Regions from separate parts of the Homo sapiens genome. Here region 1 is linked to region 2. Evidence: fine-mapped expression QTL. Tissue or cell type: breast. Region 2 holds a variant in brackets; the other region holds the start of a gene. All regions are shown on one strand. Distances are between the middles of the regions.

Evidence for each region. PIP is the estimated chance that this variant, and not a neighbour inherited with it, causes the effect.
Region 1: it holds the start of RASA1, and the variant in region 2 is fine-mapped to the expression of RASA1 in breast (GTEx, PIP 0.90).

What each region holds. Positions count from the first base shown.
Region 1 is chr5:87,263,332-87,271,460 of GRCh38, forward strand. RASA1 (RAS p21 protein activator 1) reads left to right here and starts at 4,552. Exons shown (of 25, transcript NM_002890.3): 1 at 4,552-5,659. The coding sequence starts at 5,121. RefSeq lists enhancers at 4,281-4,575, 4,629-5,516, 5,274-5,323 and silencers at 4,324-4,573, 4,914-5,093.
Region 2 is chr5:87,214,198-87,222,326 of GRCh38, forward strand. LINC01949 (long intergenic non-protein coding RNA 1949) reads right to left here. Exons shown (of 3, transcript NR_130914.1): 3 at 1,538-4,132. The region is part of intron 2 of LOC101929380 (a long non-coding RNA gene); the gene reads left to right. Among named protein-coding and RNA genes, the nearest start is that of LINC01949, 21 kb to the right of the region's middle. The variant G/A (reference allele first, on the strand shown) is at 4,599.

The sequences.
Region 1 (8,129 bases), 49 kb after region 2:
ACTTTAGTAGTCTATGAAACCCAGAAGTCTGAACATCACTGATACATACCATTATATTTACATGTCATATTTCATTGCTTTTTAAAAACTATTCGATAAACAGTGAATAGGAAGTTGAAAAATAAGAGTTCTAGTAAGATAACAAGTGAAGTTGAAAAGTCTTCAAAAGAGCACGCGGATTGAGAAATAATTATAGTTAGAAATAGAAAGCTGTTTTTAGTTGAGTAAAGTTACACTACTTACAGTGCATTTGCAGTAGTTAAAGCTCTCACCTTATTTATGATAATTATCTGACTCAAGGCTCCACTTAGCCCTTTCATTGTATAGTTACTTTAAAGAGCGGTGTGTATTGCCATACTAACTGAATTTGCAAGTGAAAGCATTCCTGGAAGACTCTCAGGTAGACCAAAGAATGTAACTTGAATTAGAGACTGCAGGATTCTTGAGGTGAAAAGACCAAAGCTTAGTTGGATTTCATGACTGTGCTTCAGGTGCTATTTAAATTGTTGCTGGCATATTCAAAAAATATTATCTGTGAAAAATGGGAGTGTAATAATGAGGGAAATATGGCAAAGTCCTACCCACCCGACTCTCCCACATTCTTTGCCTTGAAACCATTCCGTTCCCTTTTCTCCTTTACTTCTACCATGAGGTACTATCATATATAGGAGCCAGGCAAAGAAAGGAAAATACATAAATGTGCCTGGTCAGAGTAAAATAATAGGTAAAGAAAAAGAGACTAGAAATCATGAAGGAGGAAAGGTTCTGACAAAAAATAATGAAGTATCTGCAATATAAAGACAAAATAGGAATAAAGTAAAAAAAAAAAATATATTTTTCTATTATTTTATATTTTAAGAGATATTTAGATCTAACTGTTCTAATCTTCTTTACTCATATATTGGTTTGAATGTTTTGAGAGAGCTCTGGATAATTTACCTTGTAATTTATTTTACAGCCTCAGAGATCATCACACAGTTCTTCAATTTCTCTATGGTATTTATAATTTTCATAAATCTTAGTTATTATACCACATATTGTAATCTCTGCAGAGTTATTTGCCTTTTCATCAAAGTATTTCCTTTAACCTGTATCTCCTCGATGTTATTTTCTCATAAGATCTTTGTAATAAAAAAATTTGTGCTCTGGAGGGTTTTAAGATAAAGTCAATAAATGCAGTGGGGACATTAGGGTTAGAAGTAAAGGCTTTCTTTCAAAATTATTGGGTCAATGAAACCTTTTGATACTATTTAGGTAAATTTGGAAGGCTATTTGTGTAACTCAATATGTACTAGGGCATGGAACACAATTTGGCATTCTTCAAACACAGCAGTAAGCTCTTTATTACTTCTTGGTTAGTCCTCCCATCAGAAACTATTCTTACCTATGCTCTAAGGTCCTCTAAAATTACAGTTATGTTACTGAGTTAGAATTACCTTTCCACATACTCAAGATATCAAAACTATAAAATATTTTGGAACGTAGTACATTCATATTTCTTTTTCTTTTTTTTTTTTTTGAGACAGAGTCTTGCTCTGTCACCCAGGCTGGAGTGTTAGCCAGGATTGTCTCGATCTCCTGACCTTGTGATCTGCCCGCCTCGGCCTTCCAAAGTGCTAGGATTACAGGCGTGAGCCACCGCACCCGGCCACATTCATATTTCAGTTGCCAATGAAACCAGAATGAGCCAACTTCATTTCTTAAATTTTCAGTTTCTTTTCATACACAAGTTTTTGTCCAGCACTTTTTATTATTTAGTCTTCATTAAATACTATGTTTCAAGATCCAGAGTAACTTTTCTAAAATCACAGATATAATAGCTTATTTTACTAAAGGTAAAATATATTTTGAATTTTCTTTCTTTTGTGTACTATTCTGTTTTTCAATACCTCCCTGTTTAATATCTGTGAATTTAATTAAGATAGTTTACTTCCCTTTGTTAACTGGGCAGAAAGTTAAGGTGGGTAGAAAAGAAAGGCAATGGACAAAAATTAAGTAGAAACATTAAATCCTTTTGGAAAAAATGAAAATAAAGATAGACAACGTATTTGAGATTCAGAAAGTACACAAGCAATAGTAAAGATTAGAGCCTAGATCTATCCAATAATAGGAATATATTAAATATCTGAAAATACCTCATAAAAATATGTGGCAATTTCTTTGGAGGAAAAGAACAGGGCTAACTCTAAGGCTAAACAAAAACTAGGTAAGATATTGGTATAAGGCTGATTTACAAATAGACATAGTAGTTATTTCCTACTGGTTAAGAAATTGATTTCCAAAGATGGGAGCTGATCAAATTTGGTATTTGTTAAAAGGATGAAGATCTGTTCAAAGTAGCATACTGAGGTTGCCTAGGACTGGGCTAGGCAGTAGAATAGACCACAGGTTGTATTTGCAGTACAGTTTTGTAGGTACATACACCTAAAAGTCTAGAAAACATTTAATTGAGCATTTGATAGGTGTTAGACTGCATTAAATATTGACCTTTACAAGTGCTAAAGAATTGTCAAAAAGGAGGAGGTAATTCTGCAGTAAGAGTAGTGAGCCTCACCTGGACTCCCAGGCAACATACAGAGGGTGTGTGAACATTTAGAAATCAGTGATAACCAAGAGCCGGTGATAACCTGCCAGTTCAATGTCCTGCATTCAAGGGCTGACAGTGGTGACTGGGACAGGAATGTTGGAGGATTGGGATGCTAACACACTGGAGGTTTTCAAGCACAGGCTATATTAAGATTTGTTGGGATTGTTGCACTTGGTGTTCACACAGCAGACAGTAAGTAGAGTAGGTATTTTGATAGTCTTGTCTAACTGAGGGTCTAAGTTTAAAAGAAAACTGTTCTCAGGGAGGCCACCATAAGTAGTACTTCATTATTAAGTATTATGGAACTACTTCATTCTCATTTCTAGAACAGCACAGAGCTTGGCAACTCAAAACCCGCCTATTTTACCTACCCACCTAATGAATGACATTTATTATTTCTTTCAGAACCGTTTTTAGGTATTGCATACCTCCTTCTTGATTAGTATACTATACATTAATATAGTGGTTCTCAAACTTAAGTGTGCAAACAATCACTTGGAGGGTTTGTTAAAATGGATCGCTGCATATTTTCTGATTCAGAAGGTCTGAGGTGGCATTTCTGAATTCCTAGGATGTTGCGGCCTGAATTCACTTTGAGAACTCTAGCTCCTGTGACTGGTCCATCTTCCTTCTCCCAGGTAGCACACTGCTAAGAGATATGCGTAATGGAGGCCCCAGGACTACTCCTAATCAAGTTGGATTGTTGTCATTGACTAGGTAAATAGGCCTGTGCAAACTTACAAAGGCAATGCATTGCCTGTATCTTGTCACGTCTTTTAGTGGTCTTTTCTCTTTTTCCTGGGTTTCTATCACAGCCACTTGCCATCCTGAGTGTTAGTTTGATCATCCTTAGCACAGAAAATATTGATCTCAAAGATCAATATCCAATGGTATTTAATGTGGGATCACTCCTGGGAGAATTTAACAATATTGTTAATTTCAAACCATGGGAAGCTCCCTCTACATGAATGCATAGTTTGTATACATTTTAGTGTAAAAGACAAAATAACACCCTTCTCCTTAATTGTATTAAAAATGAGTTTTCAGTTTATTGCTACTTTTGAAACGATATATAATTATAACTAGCATTCTGGGACATTCTTGACATTTGACTTGTTGAAGGTGCTTGCATTGTGGATCACGTCCTGCAGTCTTTTGCACACAAACCAGGACAAAAGTGCATTGATTAGTGTTTTCTGTGGCACCTCCTCCTCTTCATCAGTATCCAACAGACTTATAATGGCATAGGTAAGTATATGAGACAGTTGATAAAGAAAAACGTATGCAAATACTGGTAGAAATCTTACTTCATAACCACTATTTCTACTCAAATTCTTCACCCTTCTCATATGGTGCCCTTTATTTCGTTTTGGAGTTTCAGAATCTATTTTAACTGTGTGTGTGTGAGATAGTCATAGTGATTTATAGCATGCAACGAAAAAGAAAACATTAATAGTACTGCCCCGATCTTCAAAGCTACCTGACCCCTGCCCGGTTTCTGCGCTGCTGGTTAAGGCTGTTTTTTCCACTGGTCAGGAAGTACGGAACTAGTTTCTGGGCATTTTCCTTTCCCTTTCCCCCTCCTTCCTCTCCACCGCCTCCTGGTCCCCCTCTGGTCTCTCCGGCTTTAACAGCGCCAAGCACCCGCGTGCTCAGGTACCCTTCCCTCTTCTCCCGCCCATCAAACAAAGCCCCGGGAGACAGGCGCGCGCCGCCGGCCACGCCAACAGGAGATGCGGCCGCGCCGCCACACGCTTGGAACCGGAGGAGGACAGCAAGCGCGACCACGCACCGCGCGTCCCCGCCGCTTCCTTCCCTCTGGACTCTTCCTTTTCCTCCCGGCCCGGCCCCCCGCCCCCGCTCCGGGAACGCGCCTGCGCACAAGCTGCCCTCTCCCTTCTCCGCCCTTCCTTCCCTCCGTCCCTCCTCCCCTGCCCCGCCTTCCTTTCTCTCTCTCCCGTTTCACTCACTGAGAGCTCCAGGTAGTGAGCAGTTCAGTCGATTTCCTCGTTACCCCGCCCCCCTTTCTCTTGCCCCCCCACCCCTCTCATCTGCCTGGTGGAGGATGAAGCGGCTGCAGTGGCCCCAGCCTCAGCAGCGGCACCGGCGGTGGCTGCGGTGTGGGTGGCCGGAACTGGGGTGGTGAAGAAGCGGTGGTGGCGGCTGAAGGAGCGGTAGCAGCCTCAGCCTCTTTCCCTGTGCTTCCTTTCCTCTTTAGTGCAGCGAGGAAGTTTTCGCTTCTGTACATGTGTTTGTGTGCGTGAGTGTGGGTGTGTGCGGTGAGGTTTGGGTGGCGTTTGTGCAGGCGTTGGGTTTTTTGCCCACTTGGCTTCCCGTAACCCAGGCAGCTGGGGAGCCTGGGCTGTGGCCCTAGGAGGGGGCGCGGCGGCGGGCTCTCTCCTTTTGTTGTTGTTTCCTCAGCCTGGGGAGCTGAAGGGGAGACGCGTCTGGGTGGGGCTGCTCGGAGCCCGGGCCTGGTGGCCCCTGGGGCTCCCGGGCGGGCAGGGTAGGGCAGAGTAGAGCGGGCTTCAACATGATGGCGGCCGAGGCCGGCAGTGAGGAGGGCGGCCCGGTAACAGCCGGAGCTGGAGGAGGCGGCGCGGCAGCGGGCTCCAGTGCCTATCCCGCAGTGTGTCGGGTGAAGATACCCGCGGCCCTGCCTGTGGCAGCCGCCCCCTATCCTGGGCTGGTGGAGACCGGAGTGGCTGGAACTCTGGGTGGCGGAGCCGCTTTGGGGTCAGAGTTCCTAGGAGCCGGGTCTGTGGCAGGGGCACTGGGGGGAGCTGGACTGACAGGGGGAGGTACTGCTGCTGGCGTAGCTGGTGCTGCTGCTGGCGTGGCCGGTGCTGCTGTTGCTGGACCTAGTGGAGACATGGCTCTCACCAAACTGCCCACTTCGTTGCTTGCTGAGACTCTCGGGCCAGGCGGCGGTTTTCCCCCTCTGCCCCCTCCCCCTTACCTGCCCCCTTTGGGGGCGGGCCTCGGGACAGTGGACGAAGGTGACTCTCTGGATGGACCAGAATACGAGGAGGAAGAGGTGGCCATACCGTTGACCGCTCCTCCAACTAACCAGTAAGTTAAGACTGCTGTTCAGGAATTTGGGAAGCTGGCTCCAGAAAAGAAGTGGAAATGAAGGGGTAAATCATACTTTGTCCTTTTCATCTGTGGTTTGTTAGGAAAAGTTTTTGAAGTTTCAGGTTTCTTGGGTAGGAATTTAATCTGATCACTTATCTTCCTTACAGGCATACTACCTGGCGTCTTCCTACATTTATTGCTCCTCTGGGAAAGTGTAAAGTCTTTAAGATGGAAAGCATGAGAAAATGTGTATCTAATGAGAACCGGATATAGTTCTGTCCCTTCCAAGTTGAGGTGGTGTCCCAGAATTTAGTCAAACTGCGGCTACCAAGGCAGTCATAGTGTATATTAACTTGTGTGTGTTACTTGATAAAGCTAGATGATTAGTGAGAAGCTTTGAATACAGGTGTTTAAACGAGTACTATAGTAATAATTTGAAAAATGTATTGGTTAGAATGTTTTTATTTCAGTGCACAGCCCAGCTTCTGATTAGAGAAAGCATAGTGATGCAGAAGAGTCTTTGGGTCACTTAATGAGAACTTGGGTCAGAGAGAAAGGAAAGGAATCCTGTGTATTATAGGTGTGATTAAGAGCCTATATTCCAACAATGTATCTTCTTCCATAGGCTTGCCACTTAATATTAACGCACTGCTTTTATAGTGGAGACTTTGGAAGTACAACAGTGAGGCAAAACAAAATCAATAGAGCTTCCCTTAAACATTTTTTGTTGGTGGCCAGTATAGTATTCTATTTAAAAATTAAGTTTTACAGTCTGTAAAATATACAGGACAATGACTTTTTTAAAATGTAAGTTAATACCTCCTCCTCACTTGTCTTAATTGAACTTAGGTGTTTATTCTTAAAGGTGGACCTTGATGAAAATGTTGAGATGGGAAGTGTTATTAGGCAAAACTTGTTATAGATTTCTCATATAACCCTTAATTGACCCTTAGAATTTTAACAACCGGCCGGGCGCAGTGGCTCACACCTGTAATCCCAGCACTTTGAGAGGCTGAGGTGGGCGGATCACCTGAGGTCAGGAGTTCGAGACCAACCTGGCCAACCTGGTGAAACCCTGTCTCTACTAAAAATACAAAAATAAGCCGGACGCGGTGGCACGCGCCTATAATCCTAGCTACTTGGGAGGCTGAGGCAGAAGAATCGCTTGAACCCAGGAGGCGGAGGTTGCAGTGAGCCGAGATCGTGCCGCTGCACTCCAGCCTGGGTGACAGAGCGAGACTCTGTCTCAAAAAAAAAAAAAAAAGAATTTTGACAACTTTGTTGAATATCAAGAAAAAAAGATTTGGTTCATATGTTGACAGTCACTCTGGACAATTCAGAGGTTTTTTTTTTTTTCCTTCCCCCCACCCCAGAGATGGAGTCTCGCCTTGTTGCCCAGGCTGGAGTGCAGTGGCGTGATCTCGGCTCACTGCAACCTCCGCCTCCCGGGTTCAAGAGATTCTCCTGCTTCAGCCTCTCTAGTAGCTGGGATTACAGGCGCATGCCACCATGTCTGGCTAATTTTTGTATTTTTAATAGAGACGAAATTTCGCCATATGGCCAAACTGATGTCGAACTCCTGACCTCAGGTGATCCGCCGGCCTCAGCCTCCCAAAGTGGTGGGATTACAGCCGTAAGCCACGGTGCCCGGCCTTTTTTTTTTTTTTTTTTTTTTTTTTTTTTTTTTTTTGGATAAGCTTCTTTGGAGCATTTAGAAAGTTCTGAAACTAATTAGGAAAAGATTCTGTTACCCTAATCCATTTTTGACTTAAGGCTACATCTTTTGATACTTAAAGGGGAAAAGTAAAGTTAGTCATATTTATGCCAGCCAACGGGATGTAGTATTCCACTTTTTATATTCCTCAATAAAGGATTCAAGTCTTTCGTCAGAGTTTGGTTCATATTTTAATGTCTTTGTAATGCAGAGTCCCTGGGAGTATTCTGGGAGTGTTAATTCCAATTTTGCTGGGCGCGGTGGCTCACGCCTGTAATCCCAGCACTTCGGGAGGCCGAGGCGGGTGGATCACCTGAAGTCCGGAGTTTGAGACCAGCCTGACCGAGATGGAGAAACCCCGTCTCTACTAAAAATACGAAATTAGCCTGGCGTGGTGGCGGGTGCCTGTAATCCCAGCTTCTTAGGAGGCTGAGGCAGGAGAATCGCTTGAACCCGGGAGGCGAAGGTTGCAGTGAGCCGAGATCCTGCCATTGCACTCCAGCCTGGGCAATAAGAGCTTAACCCCGTCTCAAAACAAACAAACAAACAAAAAAACAATATTACAGCACTGCTTTTGAAAAAAATAGTTCAATTTTTATTAAATGCTAATAGCATGCTTGGTACAATGGTTATGAAAAACAATGCAACTTTTCATACTGAAAGAATCTAGTCTTATGCTAGTTTATAACTAAATTAGGTATATTTAGGATATTGTAGTTAAAAAAAACTGTTTTTAGTAGACTTCTTTTTTTT
Region 2 (8,129 bases):
TTATTATTTTGAGATATGTTCCATCAACACCTAGTTTATTGAGAGCTTTTAGCATGAAGGGGTGTTGAATTTTATCAAAGGCCTTTTCTGCATCTCTTGAGATAATCAATCATGTGGTTTTTGTCATTGGTTCTGTTTATGTGATGGATTATGTTTATTATTTTGCATATGTTGAACCAGCCTTGCATCCCAGGGATGAAGTCAACTTGATCGTGGTGGATAAGCTTTTTGATGTGCTGCTGGATTCTGTTTGCCAGTATTTTAATGAAGATTTTTGCATCGATCTTTATGAGGGATATTGGCCTGAAATTTTATTTTTTTGTGCCTCAATTTCAGAATTTATTATTGGTCTATTCAGGGATTTGACTTCTTCCTGGTTTAGCCTTGGAAGGGTGTATGTGTCCAGGAATTTGTCCATTTCTTCTAGATTTTCTAGTTTATTTGCATAGAGGTGTTTATAGTATTCTCTGATGGTAGGTTGTTTTTCTGTGGGATCAATGGTGATATCCTCTTTATCATTTTTTATTGTGTCTATTTGATTCTTCTTTCTTTTCTTTTTTATTATTCTGGCTAGTGATCTATCTATTTTGTTAATCTCTTCAAAAAACCAGGTCCTGGATTCATTGATTTTTTTGAAGGGTTTTTCATGTCTCTATCTCCTTCAGTTCTGCTCTGATCTTAGTTATTTCTTGTCTTCTGGTAGCTTTTGAATTTGTTTGCTCTTGCTTCTCTAGTTCTTTTAATTGTGATGTTAGGGTGTTGACTTTAGATCTTTCCTGCTTTCTCCTGTGGGCATTTAGTGCTATACATTTCTCTCCAAACATTGCTTTAGCTGTGTCCCACAGATTCTGGTACATTGTGTCTTTGTTCTCATTGGTTTCAAAAAACTTATTTATTTCTGCCTTAATTTCGTTATTTACCCAGTAGTCATTCAGGAGCAGGTTGTTCAGTTTCCATGTAGTTGTGCGGTTTTGAGTAAGTTTCTTAATCCTGAGTTCTAATTTGATTGCACTGTGGTCTGAGAGACTGTTGTGATTTCCGTTCTTTTGCATTCGGTGTGTAGTGTTTTACTTCCAATTATGTGGTCAATTTTAGAATAAGTGCGATGTGGTGCTGCTAAGAATGTATATTCTGTTGATTTGAAGTGGAGAGTTGTGTAGATGTCTGCTTGGTCCAAAGCTGAGTTCAAGTTCTGAGTTCTGTAGGTCTGCTTGGTCCAGAGCTGAGTTTAAGTCCTGAATATTCTTGTTAATTTTCTGTCTCATTGTTCTGTCTAATATTGACAGTGGAGTGTCAAAGTCTCCCATTATTATTGTGTGAGAGTCTAAGTCTCTTTGTAGGTCTCTAAGAACTTGCTTTATGAATCTGGGTGCTCCTGTATTGGGTGCATATATATGTAGAATAGTTAGCTCTGCTTGTTGCATTCATCCCTTTACCATTATGTAATGCCCTTCTTTGTCTTTTTTTATCTTTGTTGGTTTAAAGTCTGTTTTATGAGAGACTAGGATTGCAACCCCTGCTTTTTTTCTTTTCCTTTCCATTTGCTTGGTAAATATTCCTCCATCCCTTTATTTTGAGCCTATGTGTGTCTTTGCACGTGAGATGGGTCTCCTGAATACAGCACAATGATGGATTTTGACTCTATCCAATTTGCCAGTCTGTGTCTTTTAATTGTGGCATTTAGCCCGTTTGCATTTAAGGTTAATATTGTTATGTGTTAATCTGATCCTGTCATTATGATGCTAGTTGGTTATTTTGCCTGTTAGTTGATGCAGTTTCTTCATAGTGTCGGTGGTCTTTATAGTTTGTTATGTTTTTGCAGTGGCTGGTACTGGTTTTTCCTTTATGTGTTTAGTGCTGCCTTCTGGAGCTCTTGTAAGGCAGGCCTGGTGGTGACAAAATCGCTCAGCATTTGCTTGTCTCTCAGGATTTTATTTCTTCTTTGCTAATGAAGCTTAGTTTGGCTGGATATGAAATTCTGGGCTGAAAATTCTTTTCTTTAAGAATGTTAAATATTGGCCCCCCACTCTATTCTGGCTTGTAGGGTTTCAGCAGACAAATCTGCTATTAGTTTAATGGGCTTCCCTTTGTGAGTAAACCGACCTTTCTCTCTGGCTGCCCTTAACATTTTTTTCTTCATTTCATCCTTGGTGAATCTGATGATTATGTGTCTTGGGGTTGCTCTTCTCGAGGAGTATCTTTGTGGTGTTCTCTGTATTTACTGATTTGAATATTGGCCTGTCTTGCTAGGTTGGGGAAGTTCTCCTGGATAATATCCTAAGAGTGTTTTCAAACTTGGTTCTATTCTCCCCAGCACTTTCAGGTACATCAATTAAACATAGGTTTGGTCTTTTCACATAGTCCCATATTTCTTGGAGGCTTTGTTCGTTCCTTTTCATTCTTTTTTTCTCTAATCTTGACGTCACACTTTATGTCATTAAGTTGATCTTCAATCTCTGATATCCTTTCTTCTGCTTGATCGATTCAGCTATTGATACTTCTGTATGCTTCACGAAGGTCTCGTGCTGTGTTTTTCAGCTCCATCAGATCATTTATGTTCTTCTCTAAAGTGGTTATTCTAGTTAGCAATTCCTCCAGCCTTTTTTCATTTTTAGCTTCCTTGCATTGGGTTAGAACATGCTCCTTTAGCTCAGAGGAGTTTGTTATTACCCACCTTCTGAAGCCTCCTTCTGTAAATTCGTCAAACTCATTCTCCATCCAGTTTTGTTCTCTTGCTGGCAAGGAGTTGTGATCCTTTGCAGGAGAAAAGGTGTTCTGGTTTTTGGAATTTTCAGCCTTTTTGCACTGGTTTTTCCTCATCTTCATGGATTTATCTACCTTTGGTCTTTGATGCTGGTGACCTTCGGATGGGGTTTTTGTGTGGATGTCCTTTTTGTTGATGTTGACGCTATTCCTTTCTGTTTGTTAGTTTTCCTTATAACAGTCAGGCCCCTCTGCTGCAGGTCTGCTGGAGTTTGTTGGAGATCCACTCCAGACCCTGTTTACCTGGGTATCACCAGCGCAGGCTACAGAACAGCACAGATTGCTGCCTGTTCCTTCCTCTGGAAGCTTCGTCTCAGACGGGCACCCACCAGATGTCTGTTGACCCCTGCTGGAAGGTCTCTCCCACTCCGGAGGCACAGGGGTCAGGGACCCACTTGAGGAGGCAGTCTGTCCCTTAGCAGAACTTGAGCACTGTGCTGGGAGATCTGCTGCTCTCTTCAGAGCCAGCAGGCAGGAACGTTTAAGTGTCCTGAAGCTGTGCCCACAGCTGCCCCTTCCCCCAGGTGCTCTGTCCCAGGGAGATGGGAGTTTTATCTATAAGTCCCTGACTGGGGCTGCTGCCTTTGTTTCAGAGATGCCCTGCTCAGAGAGGAGGAATCTAGAGAGACACTCTTGCTACAGCAACTTTGCCGAGCTGCAGTGGGCTCCACCCAGTTCAAACTTCCCAGCAGCTTTGTTTACACTGTGAGGGGGAAACTGCCTAATCAAGCCTCAGTAATGGCAGACGCCCCTCCCTGCACCAAGCTCAAGCATTCCAGGTGGACATCAGACTGCTGTGCTGGCAGCGAGAATTTCAACCCAGTGGGTCTTAGCTTGTTGGGCTCCGTGGGGGTGGGATCTGCTGAGCTAGACCACTTGGCTCCCTGGCTTCAGTGCCCCTTTCCAGGGGAGTGAACAGTTCTGTCTCGCTGGCATTCTAGGGGCTACTAGGGTATGAAAAAAACTCCTGCTGCTAGCTCAGTGTCTGCCCAAATGGCTGCCCAGTTTTTTGCTTGAAACCCAGGGCCCTGGTGGTGCAGGCACCCAAGGGAATCTCCTGGTCTGTGGGTTGCAAAGACCGTGGGGAAAGCATAGTATCTGTGCCGGAATGCCCCGTTCCTCACGGCACAGTCCCTCACAGCTTCCCTTGGCTAGGGGAGGGAGTTCCCTGACCCCTTGCGCTTCCCGGGTGAGGCAACACCCCACCCTGCTTCTGCTTGCCTTCTGTGGGCTGCACCCACTGTCTAACCAGTCCCAATGAGATGAGCTGGGTACTTTAGTTGGAAATGCAGAAATTATCTCCTTCTGCGTTGATCTCGCTGGGAGCTGCAGAGCAGAGCTGTTCCTATTCAGCCATCTTTCCAGACACCTCAAGAAAAATTTTATATCACTACCGCAAATAGAAAAACCAAATTATTTGCCATGAATGGAAAGTAACAGTAAATATAAACACGACAGAGTAAAAATAATAAAACATGGTAATATATTCTAGTAGTATATTTCCTGATGAAAACTTTTTACAGGGGTCTGCTCTACCTTGGCAAAATGAAAAATTAGAGAAATTTAGAGACAACACCAAACTGAGAGGTCCTCCTTGAGATAATCACAAAGATTAAATGTTGTTTAGGAGGAAATAACTTTGTCGTTATGTGATTCAATGCTAATTAATGCCATATCCATGAACATGAAATCATGTCTCATGCTTCCTAATGTTATCTCAGGTATTGCCAGTGGTGACACATTTCTGGAAACACTGCTCAGTGGTATCACATGGAGTAGTAAACTGAGTCATACAACATTTTACTGGTAGTTATATTTAAATTTCTATTAAAAAT[G/A]TTTTTGGCTGGGCGCAGTGGCTCATGCCTGTAATCCCAGCACTTTGGGAGGCCCAGGCAGGCGGATCACGAAGTAAGGAGATCGAGACCATCTTGGCTAACACGGTGAAACCCTGTCTCTATTAAAAATACAAAAAATAAAATTAGCTGGGCGTGGTGGCAGGCGCCTTGTAGTCCCAGCTACTTGGGAGGCTGAGGCAGGAGAATGGCGTGAACCCAGGAGGCTGAGCATGCAGTGAGCCGAGATCACGCCACTGCACTCCAACTGGGTGACAGAGCAAGACTCCACCTCAAAAAAAAAAGTTTTTAATTTTAAATTTCATAGGAAATGCTGATTGAATTTCAAGTCTAAAAAACCAGATTAATTACTTGATTTGAATAATTTAGTGCTAATTTAAAAGTCTTTTAATTACAACCCGAGATGAATTTAGGAATCAAAGCCATCTGACTTGTGATTATCCGTATCTTTTGTTAGGAGTTAGGTCTTATATTAATTGATTTTTGTCTTTCAAAGCATCTAGCATTGGTGACCCATGTCCAGGGATCTCATTGTGGTGGGGTGATGATTACTGACCAGGCTATGATCAGGTATAGAAAAACATTCACACTCTATGCTCTCAGGGTCTGGCCTCTGCTTGGCTCCATGTTGTACAGCTGAGAGTAGTGCAAGCTCTTCAATGATGAGATAGAATAAAAATATGTCTCAACAACTGAATTATCTGATTACCCAAAATGATTTCATATGGAAAAATAATTACTACATATAGAGGACATTTCATTTCAGTGACTTGAAGGATACTGAATTATTTGAAATTATGGACTAGACACCCTGCTATGGTCTAATATATCCCCCTAAATTCATGTTGGAAACTTAATCCCCAATCTAGCAGTATTAGGAGGTGGGGCTTTGGGGGAAGTATTTATGTCATAAGGGTTTCACCGTTATGAATGGATGAATGCCATTATAAAGGGGTTTGATGGAGGAAATTCATCCTTCTTGTGCCCTAAGCCTTCTACGATGTTAAGATACAGAAAGAAGACCCTCACTAGATACCAGTGCCTTAATCATGAACTTCGTAGCCTCCAGAATAGTGAGAATTAAATCTCTATTCTTTGTAAATTATTGTTTCCAGTATTATGTTACAGTAACACAAAACAAAGACACACTCTAATACTAACCCTTGACTGATTACTAAATTGCAGAAATCAGCTCTTTGGTTCAACATGTAATCAAGCCAACCCTGGAAGACATTGCCTTCTACCTCCAGGGCCAACACTGGTCAACCTTTCCCCACCTCATGCCTGCCTTCTACCCTTGTGGGTTAGTGAGTGTCTCCCTACCAAAAAAAAATAATAATAATAAGCCGAATGAGTTAAGCATATAGAAGCCTGATTATACTATGAAGAGCATTTACCTTTGAGTCAGAGACTCAAGTTTGAATAGTTACTTAACTTCACTGCTTAACAGCTATGAAGCCTGGGCGAAATCACTCAACACAGCCTGTTTCCTCTCTAAGAAATAAGGGATAATCATACTTTATTTATGAATTGTTATGAGAGTTCAATTGAGTTAACATTTCAGGTTAGTTGGATTTGACTAAATATTGGTTTAATTCATTTGTTCACTGATTAAAATTTTAATCATTCTCTAAAGTTCTTTCTTCTCTATTCTCTCACAATAATACTGTAAATAGCTCTGCTAAACTTGAGCTCTAAAAAGTACTTTTAAAAAATAAAGCATACAGTTAGGTTTAAATATTTTATGATTTAAAGAACAGGAGGAACTAAACTGATGAAACCCATTTTTCAATTTTTTTTTTTTTTTTTTTTTCTTGAGACGGAGTCTTGCCCTGTCACCCAGGTTGGAGTGCAGTGGCGCAATCTCGGCTCACTGCAACCTTCACCTCCCGGGTTCAAGCGATTCTCCTGCCTCAGCCTCCCGAGTAGCTGGGATTACAGGTGCCCACCACAATGCCTGGCTAAATTTAAATTTGTGTTTTTTGTTTTTGTTTTTTTGAGACAGAGTCTTGCTCTGTCGTTCAGGCTAGAATGCAGTGGCGTGATCTCGGCTCACTGCAACCTCCGCCTCCCAGGTTCAAGCGATTCTCCTGCCTCAGTCTCCCTGTAGGTGGGGTTACAGGTGCCCGCCATCGCGCCTGGATAATTTTTGTATTTTTAGTAGAGATGGGGTTTCCCCATCTTGGCCAGGCTGGTCTCAAACTCCTGACGTCATGATCCACCGAACTCGGCCTCCCAAAGTGCTGGGATTATAGGTGTGAGCCACCGCGCCTGGCCTAATTGTTGTATTTTTAGAAGAGACGGAGTTTCACCATGTTGGCCAAGCTGGTCTCAAACTCCTGACCTCAAGTGATCCACCAGCCTCGGCCTCCCAAAGTGCTGGGATTACAGGCATGAGCCACCATGCCCAGAATCCAGATTTTTTGAAGTAATTTTTCTTGAGCTTTGAGAAAATATGATTTATGAGCAATAAACCAATAAAAAGGCTATGCAAAAGTAGATGATGTTTCAAAATACTTTTAAGCTAGACTTAAGTACTTAATAAAATAGCTGAATTTATTCTTATATATAATATAAATCTCAGCAAACTGAATCTTTTCAATAAGAAAAGTAAAGGAAATATAGACTATTCCTAGCATAGTTCAGCTTAGTTGCTGGTTTGGAGAGATAGAAAAGAGTGCTTTAGGCCGGGCGGGGTGGCTCACGCCTGTAATCCCAGAACTTTGGAAGGCTGAGGCGGGTGGATCATGAGGTCAGGAGTTTGAGACCAGCCTGGCCAACATGGTGAAACCCCATCTCTACTAAAAATACAAAAATTAGCTGGGTATGGTAGCAGGTACCTGTAATCCCAGCCACTCAGGAGGCTGAGGCAGGAGAATAGCTTGAACCCGGGAGGCAGAGGTTGCAGTGAGCCGAGATCAAGCCACTGCACTACAGCCTGGGACAGGGCAAGACTCCATCTCAAAAAAAAAAAAAAAAACTGGAAAAAGAAAGAAAAGAGTGCTTTAGGATTAGGATGTTGTTTGAATGTTTTATATATATATAGTGTGTGTGTGTGTGTGTGTGTGTCTGTATAAAATGGACCAAGCAATAAAGAACTTTTAGCCAAGTATACTTTTAAAACCAAGTAAAATTTAATGTCATAACTTAAGTTATATTATAGGTGTTATTCCTAATATTTGGTTTTCAGGCTGTTTTCAGAATAAAACAGGGAAAGATCAAGAAATCGGCCAGTGTCTCTTCTTTCTGTGTAAACAGGTCTTTGTAGATAACCGTGTTTATCAGAGTCTGATTTTACTTTTCTCTTTGTACTAAATCTTCTGTTTAAAAAGTCTTAAACCACCTCTGTGTTTGTTTGAATTCCAAAGTTGAATAAATATAGCTGTTATGCGTAAATAACCAAAGGAGTGTTTCTCAAATTGTGTTGTCATGATTGTTTTCATTAGAATCAGCTGGAATGACTGTTAAAAGGGTAATTTCCTGGGCTCCACCACCCCAGTGCTACTGTAATAG